2 separate regions of the Homo sapiens genome follow, and region 1 is linked to region 2. Evidence: fine-mapped expression QTL. A gene starts in region 2. The other region holds a variant in brackets. All regions are shown on one strand. Distances are from middle to middle. Region 1 holds the start of TM9SF1 (transmembrane 9 superfamily member 1). Region 2 holds the start of TINF2 (TERF1 interacting nuclear factor 2).

Region 1 (5,366 bases), 45 kb before region 2:
AACCAGGGAGGTTACAGAAACCCCAGGTCAGGTGCCTCGAACTGAGGTCCCCTGGCTCCACTTGCTCCCATTGGCCCCCTCCCCGCCTCACCCTACCCCACGTCTCTCTATCCCAAAGACCCCGCTCCACCTCTGCTCTCTCATCCTCCCAACCTGGGGTTCACCCCACCCGCAGCCCGTCTGGCCCGGGGCCTCTACTACGCGCCCTGGCCCGTTTCCATGGCAACGCCGCTCGGTCTCGCACCTCGGGTCCCTTCCCGCCACAGCCCCGGGGTCCTCACCGCGCGGGAAGGGCTGGCCGAGGCGGCGCCAGCGGCCTTCGCGCCCCCGTAGCTGCCTTTGGGCTCCTGCTGGGGTCTCTCCCACAGCGGCGCGGTAGCGGCGGGTTGGAGAGGACCTGCCGACCGACTTCTACGGGGTTGCCCGTTGCTGCGCCTGACAGCGGCGGCTGCGGCTACACCGCGCTGGACACCGCTCTGGCTTACTCAAGAACTCCCCGTTGCGCCTTCTCCATCTGGAGGCCCGGCCCAGCTCCGGGGACCCCGTGAGGCTCGGCTTGCCCCGCCCGTCTTCGGCGAGGCGGGGGTCCTCCCGGCGATCGGCAGCGCGGCCCAGGACACGTCAGTCTTACCACTTCCGCCCTCACCGGCGGCGACCTCAGCCTGGCGGAAAGCTCCTTGCCTGGAACGCAGAGGGCCTTCGCTGCTGCGGCCCCTGGGGACTCCTTCGCGACGGCTTCCCGGGGAGGGGGCTGAGGCCTGGCAGCGAGGACCCTGACACCCCTTCGGGAGAGGAGTGGCTGCTAGGCCGCTCGCTTGCTCCTGGAAAGATTTGGGGTTTGAGAGCTCTTGGCCAGGAGGCTCGCGCTGGCCGAGGCCCGAGAGCTGTCCCCGCGGGACGGGACTAGCGAGGGCCGGGGAGATGGAGCGCAGGCGGCGTCTGGGTTCGAAGCACTTTCCGGCTGAACCACCTGCTGCTGAGGCTGAGCCCTGAGAGGCGGTTCGTGGCCCCCAAACCGGGGAAGGGGCGAAGCTTTGGGCATCTGTCCCATGCAAGGGTCCCAACATCTGAATCTCACCTCACTCGTCTCCCACCTGTCACGAATGGCCAGCGCCAAAGTGATAAATATGTAATAGGAATGTCTTCCCGAGGCTGTGCTGGAGACTTCCCTGGCCGCACAGTGACCGTTCAGAGCCCACGATAAGCAAGCCGAAACCCGGTTTGGCGCAGAGGCGCGCAAGGAGAGAGGTCTGTCCTTTGACTCTGTGAGTTGGGCAGCCTAACATGGTTATTGTTAATTGACGGTAAAGTATCTCGAGGTCCGTTAGTCTATGTTTTTGTTCTTATTTATCACTGTGTATGTCTTTGGGCTTCTCTTCACTTTGTATGGCAGATTATTTTGAAAAAGTTTACCCTTGTGTTTGTCTCAGCTGTTTTAAAGGGGATCTGCCGTCTAGGGAGTTCCCCTTGAAAATCGGACCTTTGAGCAGTGACTTCTGTTTTGCCACCTGGGAGCAACGTGTAAGGAAGTGGACTTAAGCTTCTCTCTCCCCAGGGGAAGAAGCACAGTGGAAAAATCACAAGTGACTTCTGGCCTGAAAAGCCCTTAATTTACCTGCTTCTACAATTACTGCCCTTTCTGACCCAGTTCTTTCCCTGCAGATATAGGTGAGGTTCAAAGAAGCAGATGGTGGAGTTTTGTTAGACAATCAGTGAATTTTCTAATTAGAAAAAGAACTGAGGTCGGGCGCGGTGGGCTCACGCCTGTAATACCAGCACTTTGGGAGGCCAAGGCGGGCAGATCACCCGAGGTCGGGAGTTCGAGACCAGCCTAACATGGCGAAACCCTGTCTCTACTAAAAATACAAAAAAATTAGCTGGGCCTGGTGGCGGGCGCCTGTAACCCCAGCCACTTGTGAGGCTGAGGCAGGAGAATAGCTTGAACCTGGGAAGCGGAGGTTGCAGTGAACCGAGATCAGGCCATTGCACTCCAGCCTGGGCAACAGAGCGGGACTCCATCTCAAAAAAAAAAAAAAAAAGAAAAAGAAAAAGAAAAAAGAACAAGAACTGAGAGTGGCTTAGAAATAATCTCTAACTGACAACCACCTGGTCTCTAAAGCCAGAAACTTGGGCCTCTTTCTCTCTATCTTCCCGCTCAGATATCAGTGTCACCAAGCCCTCTCCACTTATTTCCTGAATATCTTCCAGATGCTTGCCTCCACCTCTTTGGTTCAGGCTCCATCTTCTCTCACCTAAACTACCATGAGAGCCACCTTGCTAGTCTCCTAGTCACCTTCCCCCTGGGTCATTTTTCACACTGCTACTGGAAAGTTTCTTTTTTAAAATCAGGATTCTCAGGGGAGGGGGTGCCTGGTCATCAGCATTTTTTTTTTTTTAAAAAAAGCAAGCACTGAGGCCGGGCGTAGTGGCTCACTCCTGTAATCCCAGCACTTTGGGAGGCCGAGGTGGATTACCTGAGGTCGGGAGTTCAAGACCAGCCTGTCCAACATGGTGAAACCCCGTCTCTACTAAAAATACAAAAAAAATTAGCCGGGCATGGTGGCTCATGGCTATAACCCCAGCCACTTGGGAGGCTGAGGCAGGGTAATCGCTTGAACCCAGGAGGCGGAGGTTGCAGTGAGCTGAGACTGCACCATTGCACTCCAGCCTGGGCAACAAGAACCAAACTCTGTCTCAAAAAAATAAGCACTGATTTTGATGTATACCCAGATTATATGAGCATACAAGGTAGAGTCAAAATAGCCTGGCATATGAGACTGCTCAGACCTGGATCCTAATTACTTCTCAAGGTACATTCCCCTTCTGGAACCCTATTCTGTATTCAAATAGAAATACTGAATATCATATTCTCTCAAGCCGGCAAGCCTCATATTGTTCCTCCTGCCTAAACCACCCAATCTCCTATTCCCTACTT[A/G]TCTTTTTTTTTTTTTTTTTTGAGACAGAGTCTCGCTCTGTTGCCCAGGCCGGAGTGCAGTGGCGTGATCTCTGCTCACTGCAAGCTCCGCCTCCCAGGTTCACGCCATTCTCCCGCCTCAGCCTCCCGAGTAGCTGGGACTACAGGTGCCTGCCACCACGCCCGGCTAATTTTTGTTTTTGTATTTTCAGTAGAGACGGGGTTTCACAGTGTTAGCCAGGATGGTCTCGATCTCCCAACCTCATGATCTGCCCGCCTTGGCCTCCCAAAGTGCTGGGATTACAAGTGTGAGCCACCGTGCCTGGCCTTTTTTTTTTTTTTTTTTTTTTTTTGAGACAGTCTCACTGTCAACCAGGCTGGAGTGTAGTGGTGTGATCTCAGTTCACTGCAACCTCCACCTCCGAGTTCAAGCGATTCTCCTGCCCCAGCCTCCCGAGTAGCTGGGACTACAGGTGCGCACCACCATGCCCGGCTAATTTTTGTATTTTTTAGTAGAGATGGGGTTTCACCATATTGGCCAGGCTGGTCTCGAACTCCTGACTTCGTGATCCGCCCGCCTTGACCTCCCAAAGTGCTGGGATTACAGGCATGAGCCACTGCACCTGGCCTTATCCTTTTTTTTTGAACAGTGCAAATGTCACCTTCTCTATAAAGCCTTCCCTTACATCTCCTCCCAGGTTTGTTTATAGCATATCTCACTGTAGTGTTATTTTACTTCTTATGTGTCTGTCTCCCTTGCTAATTTCAAACTCCTCAGAGGAAGACTGTAATTTATTCATCTCTGTTTCCTCAGGACCTAGCAGTGTTTTTGTATATGTTAGGCAGCTTAATACATGATCTTCGCATGAACTGGTTTACCCCCTGTACATGATGAGAGACTAGAGTTGCCACCAAGTTACCTATCCGGGGGCCAGCCTGTGGGATCAGATGGGCAGGATTGGGTGGGCCCCCTTACCATGGTGTGCCCTGGAAAACTGCTCATCTTGCTAGATTGAGGATATAGAGCTGGCTTCCAACAGAACTTTGGAACCATCCTGCCAGCAAGGTCAGACTGTCAATAAATGGGAATTTATTGCATGCCTGTGGCATAATCTGTTCTTGAAGTATTCTGTTTTGGAGGATGGAAGATATGAGAATTTGGATTCTTCCCTTGTTCTTTTCTCTGCCCCTCTGTCCCCCACTGATATAGTTTGGATAGTTATCCCTGCCCAAATCTCATGTTGAAATGTAATCCCCAATGCTGTAGGTGGGTCCTGGTGGGAGGTTTTTGGATCATGGGGGCGGACCCCTCATGGTTTGGTGTAGTATTTACCCTATGAGTTCTCACAAGATCTGGTTGTTTAAAAGCGTGTGGCACCTCCACCACAACTCTCTCTCTCTCACTCCCATTCTCACCACGTGATGTCCCTGCTTCCCCTTCACCTTCCGTTTTGATTATAAGCTTCCTGAGGCCTCCCCAGAAGCTGAGCCAGCACCATGCTTCCTATACAGCCTGCAGAACGGTGAGCCAATTAAACCTCTTTTCTTTTCTTTTCTTTTTTTTTTTTTTTTTTTTTGAGACGGAGTCTTGCTCTGTCGCCAGGCTAGAGTGCAGTGGTGTGATCTTGGCTCACTGCAACCTCCCCCTCCCAGGTTCAAGTGATTCTCCTGCCTCAGCCTCCAGAGTAGCTGGGACTACAGCCACACACCACCATGCCCAGCTAATTTTTGTATTTTTAGTAGAGATGTGGTTTCACCATGTTGGCCAGGATGGTCTTGATCTCTTGACCTTGTGATCCGCCTGCCTAATTTGGCCTCCCAGAGTGTTGGGATTACAGGCGTGAGCCACTGCACCCGGCCTAAACCTCTTTTCTTTACAAACTACCCAGTCTCATGTTTTTGTTTGTTTTTGTTTTTGAGACAGGGTCTCACTTTGTCACCCAGGCTGGAGTGCAGTGGTGCCATCTTGGTTCACTGCAGCCTTCACCTCCCAGGCTCAAGTGATCCTTCTGAGTAGCTGAGACTATAGGCACATGCCACCACACCTAGCTAATATTGGTATTTTTCGTAGAAATGGGTTTTTGCTATGTTGCCCAAGCTGGTCTTGAACTCCTGGGCTCAGGTAATCCACCTGCCTTGGCTTCCCAAACTGTCAGGATTACAGGCATGAGCCACTGTACACGGCCTCAGGTATTTCTTTCTTTTTTTTTTTTGAGACAGAGTGTTGCTCTGTCACCAGGCTGGAGTGCAGTGGTGCGATCTCGGCTCACTGAAACCTCCGACTCCGTGGTTCAAGTGATTCTCCTGCCTCAGCCTCCCGAGTACCTGGGATTACAGGCATGCACCACCACGCCCAGCTAATTTTTGTGTCTTTAGTAGAGACGGGTTTCACTATGTTGGCCAGGCTGGTCTCGATCTCCTGACCTCCTGATCTGCCCGCTTCAGCCTCCCA
Region 2 (5,345 bases):
TTAGACTTCCCAGTGGAGGCTGCTCTTGTGCCCATGGCTAGGTCTGCTGTGTATATCGCATGTTCTTCCTTGCTCTCAGGCTTAGATATGACCTGGGTTGGTGAGCCGAGATTCCTAAAGGGAAACAGCATGACTGTGGGGCGCTCCTTATGGCCTCCCCTAGTGGAGGCCCATTGGGACTGAACTCTTCGTCGGCCTAGAGGGGCCAGATTGAAGTGTCGGCCAGCTAGAGGTTCTGGGTGCGTCCTTGAAGATGGTCCCTGAGGAAGATGTGTGCCAGGCTTGGCTTTTGGCAGGGGATTGTGGAGTGCTAGTCTTTGTTGCTGAGGAGGATTCTGTTCCATGGGCTCAGCCAGGTTCACTGAGTCAGTAACAGAGCACTCTGAAAAAGAAAATGAGGCCCCTTATAAAGAGAACAGATAGTAACAGAATAACTGGTTTCTTATGCCCGGAGCCCATGGAACTATTCCAGTGGACTGCCTCAAAAGGTCTCAGGCTAAACACTACACCTCCAAATTCCTAGTACCTGGAAGCAGCCACCCCATGTCCACACCATATTGTCTCCAGGCAAGAGAAGAGGTGATAGAGACTCCAGGCTGCATCCAACTCAGCACATCCTGAAGCTGTGGGCAGGGACAGAGGTATGAAGACCACAATCCTTGAAACAGCCACCCCACACTCTGCCCTTACATGTTTTGCCCCAGCGAAACCTGCTGTGCCTGCGGTGTAGGCAGTGCTTTCTCCAGCTGACACAAGTACTCAAAAAGCAGCTTTTCCATGGCAGCCAGAAAGGGTTCCCCATACTCTTGTTCAAGTTCCTACAGCAGGGGAGATTAGGTCAAAAGTGGGTTAGTGGCCAGGCACGGTGGCTCACGCCTGTAATCCTGGCCATTTGGGAGGCCGAGGTGGGCGGATCACTTGAGGTCAGGAGTTCGAGACCAGCCTGGCCAACATGGTGAAACCCCATCTCTACTAAAATACAAAAATTAGCTGGGCATTTGTAATCCCAGCTACTCGGGAGGCTGAGGCAGGAGAATCGCTTGAACCCGGGAGGCAGAGGTTGCAGTGAGCCGAGATTGTGCCACTGCACTCCAGCCTGGGCGACAGAGCAAGATTCCTCAAAAAAAAAAAAAAATGGGTTAGAGAAAATAGCCACATAATAGCCTTCAAACCAGTCTCACCTGCAGCTTCGAGGCCAAATCCACAGGAGCCTCTGACAGCTGCTTCACCTGCTGGTAAAAAGTTTCCTGTGCCTCCAAAATCTTCCTCAGATCCTGCTTTGTCTGTTGAGGATACAGAAGACAGAGAAGTTAGCACCAACATCCAGTAGACAGGAGGAGCAACTTTGCTGCACCAAGTGTAACTGGGGTCAGGGCTTGTTCCGGGGATTACTCACAGCCTTGGGATCCCGCACTATAGGTCCAGATTCTGGAAAGTGGTGATTCAGGGCTTTCAGGACTTGGGCCCAAGGCCGGCCCTGCAGGATCAGCTCCACCACCACCTGTACGGTACTGAATTCAGAATCCCCACTTCGGGGCAAGCTGACCTTTTCCAACTAGTCTCATCCCCAAGCTGTGGGCCCTTGTCAGGTGCTCGCATCCCGCCCCTTTCTTTCTTTCCCCTTCCAGGTCCTACTTGCTCCAATACCTTGGCCTTTAGGCCCATACAAAGGCGTTCGTGGTGCCGGTAGCGAACCAAGCCAGGGGCAACAGCGCGCAGAGATCGCAGAAACTCCAGTACTCGCGGAAAATGTTCCACGCAGCGTCCGCGCACAACCTGCCAGCTAGCCGCGGCGGCGAAGCGTAGAGCTGCGGGACCCGCCACCAGGGGCGTAGCCATGGTCGGCGGGCTCCGCCCGGAGGCGGTCCCTCCGGGTTCCTCACCCGGATGGGTGAGGCTTTCCGATCACTCCTAGGGGCGGGGCTTCTGGCAACTCCCTGTCGCTCCGGTCTGTCGGCTCTGGGTACCTCGCGATCTGACTCGGCTCCCTTCCATCGGCCCCCAGAATTCTGGGGGAGGGGGTCTTCTGGCTCGGGCTGGAGGAGCCTGAGTGGAGAAGCTGACCGTCTCCAGTGGCACTGGGTCGCTCAGCTTTAAACGTCGCCGCTGTCTCGAGCCCGAGGGTGCCTCACTTCCGGCTCCGCTACTAGCTTCCCTTGCCCCGGAAAAGGGCGGTAAGAGGGAGCCAATGGGCGGCCACAGAGGGAACCGTGACGGTGCGTCAGAAGGCCACGCCCCAGCGGAGCTGTAGCTGCCCGCTTCCTGCACTCTCTGCCGGCTGACATGAGTTGGCGGCTGAGGCTGTCGTGGCCGCTGAGGCTGTTGTGGCCGTTCGTCTGGGTCCTCCCAGCCTTGCTTTCTTCGCGGAGCCTGCGGAGAAGCCCCGTCACTCCCGTGAGGCTCGACTTCCTAGTCTGTAAAACGAGGATCATGCCACCGCCCTTTCCCACTGTCTTCACCCATCGAAATTTAGTTCTTTAAATTCCAGACCCGAGCCGGCGTCTACAAAGCCTTCCCCTCTGCGCGCGTCGCTTCCAGTAGGAATTCGACTGTTCCTTTTATAAAACAGAAGAGGGCGCCCGCCCTTAAAAAATAAAATACAGGCTGGGCGTGGTGGCTTGTGTCTAATCCCAGCGCTTTGAGAGGCCGAGGCAGGAGGGTCACTTGAGCCCAGGAGCTCCAGACAAGCCTGGGCGACATGGTGAAACCCCTTCTCTGCTAAAAGTACAAAAATTAGCTGGGCGTGGTGGCAGGCGCCTGTAATCCCAGCTACTCGGGAGGCCGAGGCAGGAGAATCGCTTGAACCCAGTAGACGGGAGGTGGCAGTGAGCCGCGATCTTGCCTCTGCATTCCAGCCTGGGCGACAGAGGGAGAATCTCTCTCAAAGAAAAAAAAAAAAAAAAAAAGAGGAAGAAGAAGAAATAGAATACAGGCTGGGGGCACGGTGACTCACACCTGTAATCCCAGCACTCTGAGAGGCCGAGAGGGGAGGATCGATCCGCTTGAGCCCAGGAGTTCCAGACCAGACTGGATCACATGGCGATAACCTGTCTCTACTGAAAATCAAAAAAACTAGCCGGGCGTAGTGGCACGCCTGTAGTCCCAGCTACTCAGGAGGCTGAGTTGGGAGGATTGTTTGAGCCAGGGAGGTTGAGGCTTCAGTGACTGCACTCCAGCCTGAGTGATAGAGTGAGACGGGGTCTCACACACACACACAAATTAGTTTCTTGTTTTAGGATTCTGTTGTGCACTGAACTTGTCAGCCCCCTAATGTAATTGACTGCTCTCCTTGACTGTCTCTTCCACAGGCTTCCTGGTGCCTCTCATTTCCATCAGCAAGCACAGAACCTAACACACAGCTTACACTCCTTAATTGTTGGCTGGATTAGTTGCCTGCCTTGACCACCTTACAAGGATTTAGTGAAACTGCTCCGTCTTTAGCCCATGTCTTCCATTCCCAGAGATAATGGTTCACACATCCTTGTCTCCGCCCCGGATCAGTCTCAGCTGATCCGCACATTCGACTGCCCAAGAAACACCCAGTCCCAAAGTACCCCAAATTGGATATGTGTGAAATTCTAGTTATCTTCCTTTTTCCCTTTATTTATTCCTTCTCTAATGTTCTTTCTTTCTTATGTAGATATGAACTTCTGTTGTTTTACTTTTTTTTTTTTTTGAGACGGAGTCTCGCTCTGTCGCCCAGGCTGAAGTGCAGTGGCGCGATCTCAGCTCACTGCAAGCTCCGCCTCCTGGGTTCACGCCATTCTCCTGCCTCAGCCTCCCGAGTAGCTGGGACTACAGGCGCCCACCACCGCGCCCGGCTTTTTTGTATTTTTAGTAGAGACGGGGTTTCACCGTGGTCTGGATCTCCTGACCTCGTGATCCGCTCGCCTCGGCCTCCCAAAGTGCTGGGATTACAAGGCGTGAGCCACCGCGCTCGGCTCTTTTTTTTTTTTTGAGGTGGGGAGACAGTCTCGCTCTGTTGCTCAGGGTGGAGTGCAGTGATCTTGGCTCACTGCAACCTCTGCCTCCTGGGCTTAAGTGATCCTCCTGCCTCAGCCTCCAAAGTAACTGGGGCTACAGGCATGCACCACCATGCCTGGCTCATTTTTTTCTATTTTTTGTAGAGACAAGTCTTTGTTGCCCAGGCTGGTCTCGAATTCCTGGACTCAAGCGATCTTCCCACCTCGGCTTCCGAAAGTGTTGGGATCGCAGGCGTGAGCCACTGCACGCAGTCCCTGGCTAATTTTTTAAAAAATCTTTTTTGGTGGGTGTGGTGGCTCATGCCTGTAATCCCAGAACTTTGGGAGGCTGAAGTGGGAGGATCACTTGAGGCCAGGAGTTTGAGACCAGCCTGGGCAATACAGTGAGACCCTGACTCTACAAAAAAAAAAAAAAAGAAAAATATGTTTTGTAGAGAAGGGGTGTCTCTCTGTGTTGCCCAGCCCAGTCTATCTTCATTTTTTGTTTTTTGTATTTATCCTGCTTGCTGCTCTCTGAGCTTCCTGGATCTGTGTTTTGTGTCTGTCATTAATTTGGGGGAAATTCTCAGTCATTATTGCCACATTTCTTATGTTCCTTTATTTTCTTCTCTGCCATTCTGATTATGTGTATGCTACAGCTTCTATAATTGTCCTACAATTCTTGGATATTCTGTTCTTTTTCATTTTTTTTTCTCATTGCATTTCAGCTTTGGAAATTTCTGTTGACATTTCTTCAAGCGCACCATGTTCTTTGGCCATGTCCAGTCTATTGATGAGCCCATCACAGACATTCATCATTTCTGTTACAGTGGGTTTTTTTTGTTTTTTGAGACAATGTCTTGCTTTGTTGCTCAGGCTGGAATGCAGTGGCTCAATATCAGCTCACTGCAACCTGTGTCTCCCAAGTTCAAGCGATTCTGGTGCCTCAGCCTCCCAAGTAGGTGGTACTACAGGTCGTACACCACCACGCCCGGCTAATTTTTGTTTTAGTAGAGATGGGGTTTTGCCATGTTGCCCAGGCTGGTCTCGAACTCCTGACCTCAAGCGATCCACCTGCCTTGGCCTCCCAAAGTGCTAGGATTACAGGCGTGAGCCACCGTGCCCAGCTGAATTACTCATTTTCAGCTGCTATCTCTGTGTAGCTGACTTCTTGGGAGTCCGAGGCAGGTGGATTGCTTGAGCCCAGGAGTTTGAGACCAACCTGGGCAAAATGGCGAGACCCCCGTCTCTACAAAAAAAATTGAAAAACTAGCCAGGCATAGATGTGCACACCTGTAGCCCCAGTTACTCAGGAGGCTGATGTGGAAAGATTGCCTGAGCCCAGGAGGTTGAGGTTGCAGTGAGCTGTAATCCAGCCTGGTT

What was found.
Region 1: its variant is fine-mapped to the expression of TINF2 in whole blood (TOPMed, PIP above 0.99).

The regions. Positions count from the first base shown.
Region 1 is chr14:24,195,065-24,200,430 of GRCh38, forward strand. TM9SF1 (transmembrane 9 superfamily member 1) reads right to left here and starts at 377. Exons shown (of 6, transcript NM_006405.7): 1 at 282-377. RefSeq lists enhancers at 1-656, 726-785, 1,036-1,275, 5,293-5,366 and silencers at 146-325, 466-525. The variant A/G (reference allele first, on the strand shown) is at 2,936.
Region 2 is chr14:24,240,494-24,245,838 of GRCh38, forward strand. It overlaps TINF2 (TERF1 interacting nuclear factor 2), which reads right to left and starts at 2,130. Exons shown (of 9, transcript NM_001099274.3): 1 at 1,648-2,130; 2 at 1,397-1,501; 3 at 1,182-1,283; 4 at 711-818; 5 at 527-623; 6 at 1-382. The coding sequence starts at 1,839. RefSeq lists enhancers at 369-898, 1,559-1,778, 1,849-2,108, 2,279-2,578 and a silencer at 2,770-3,064.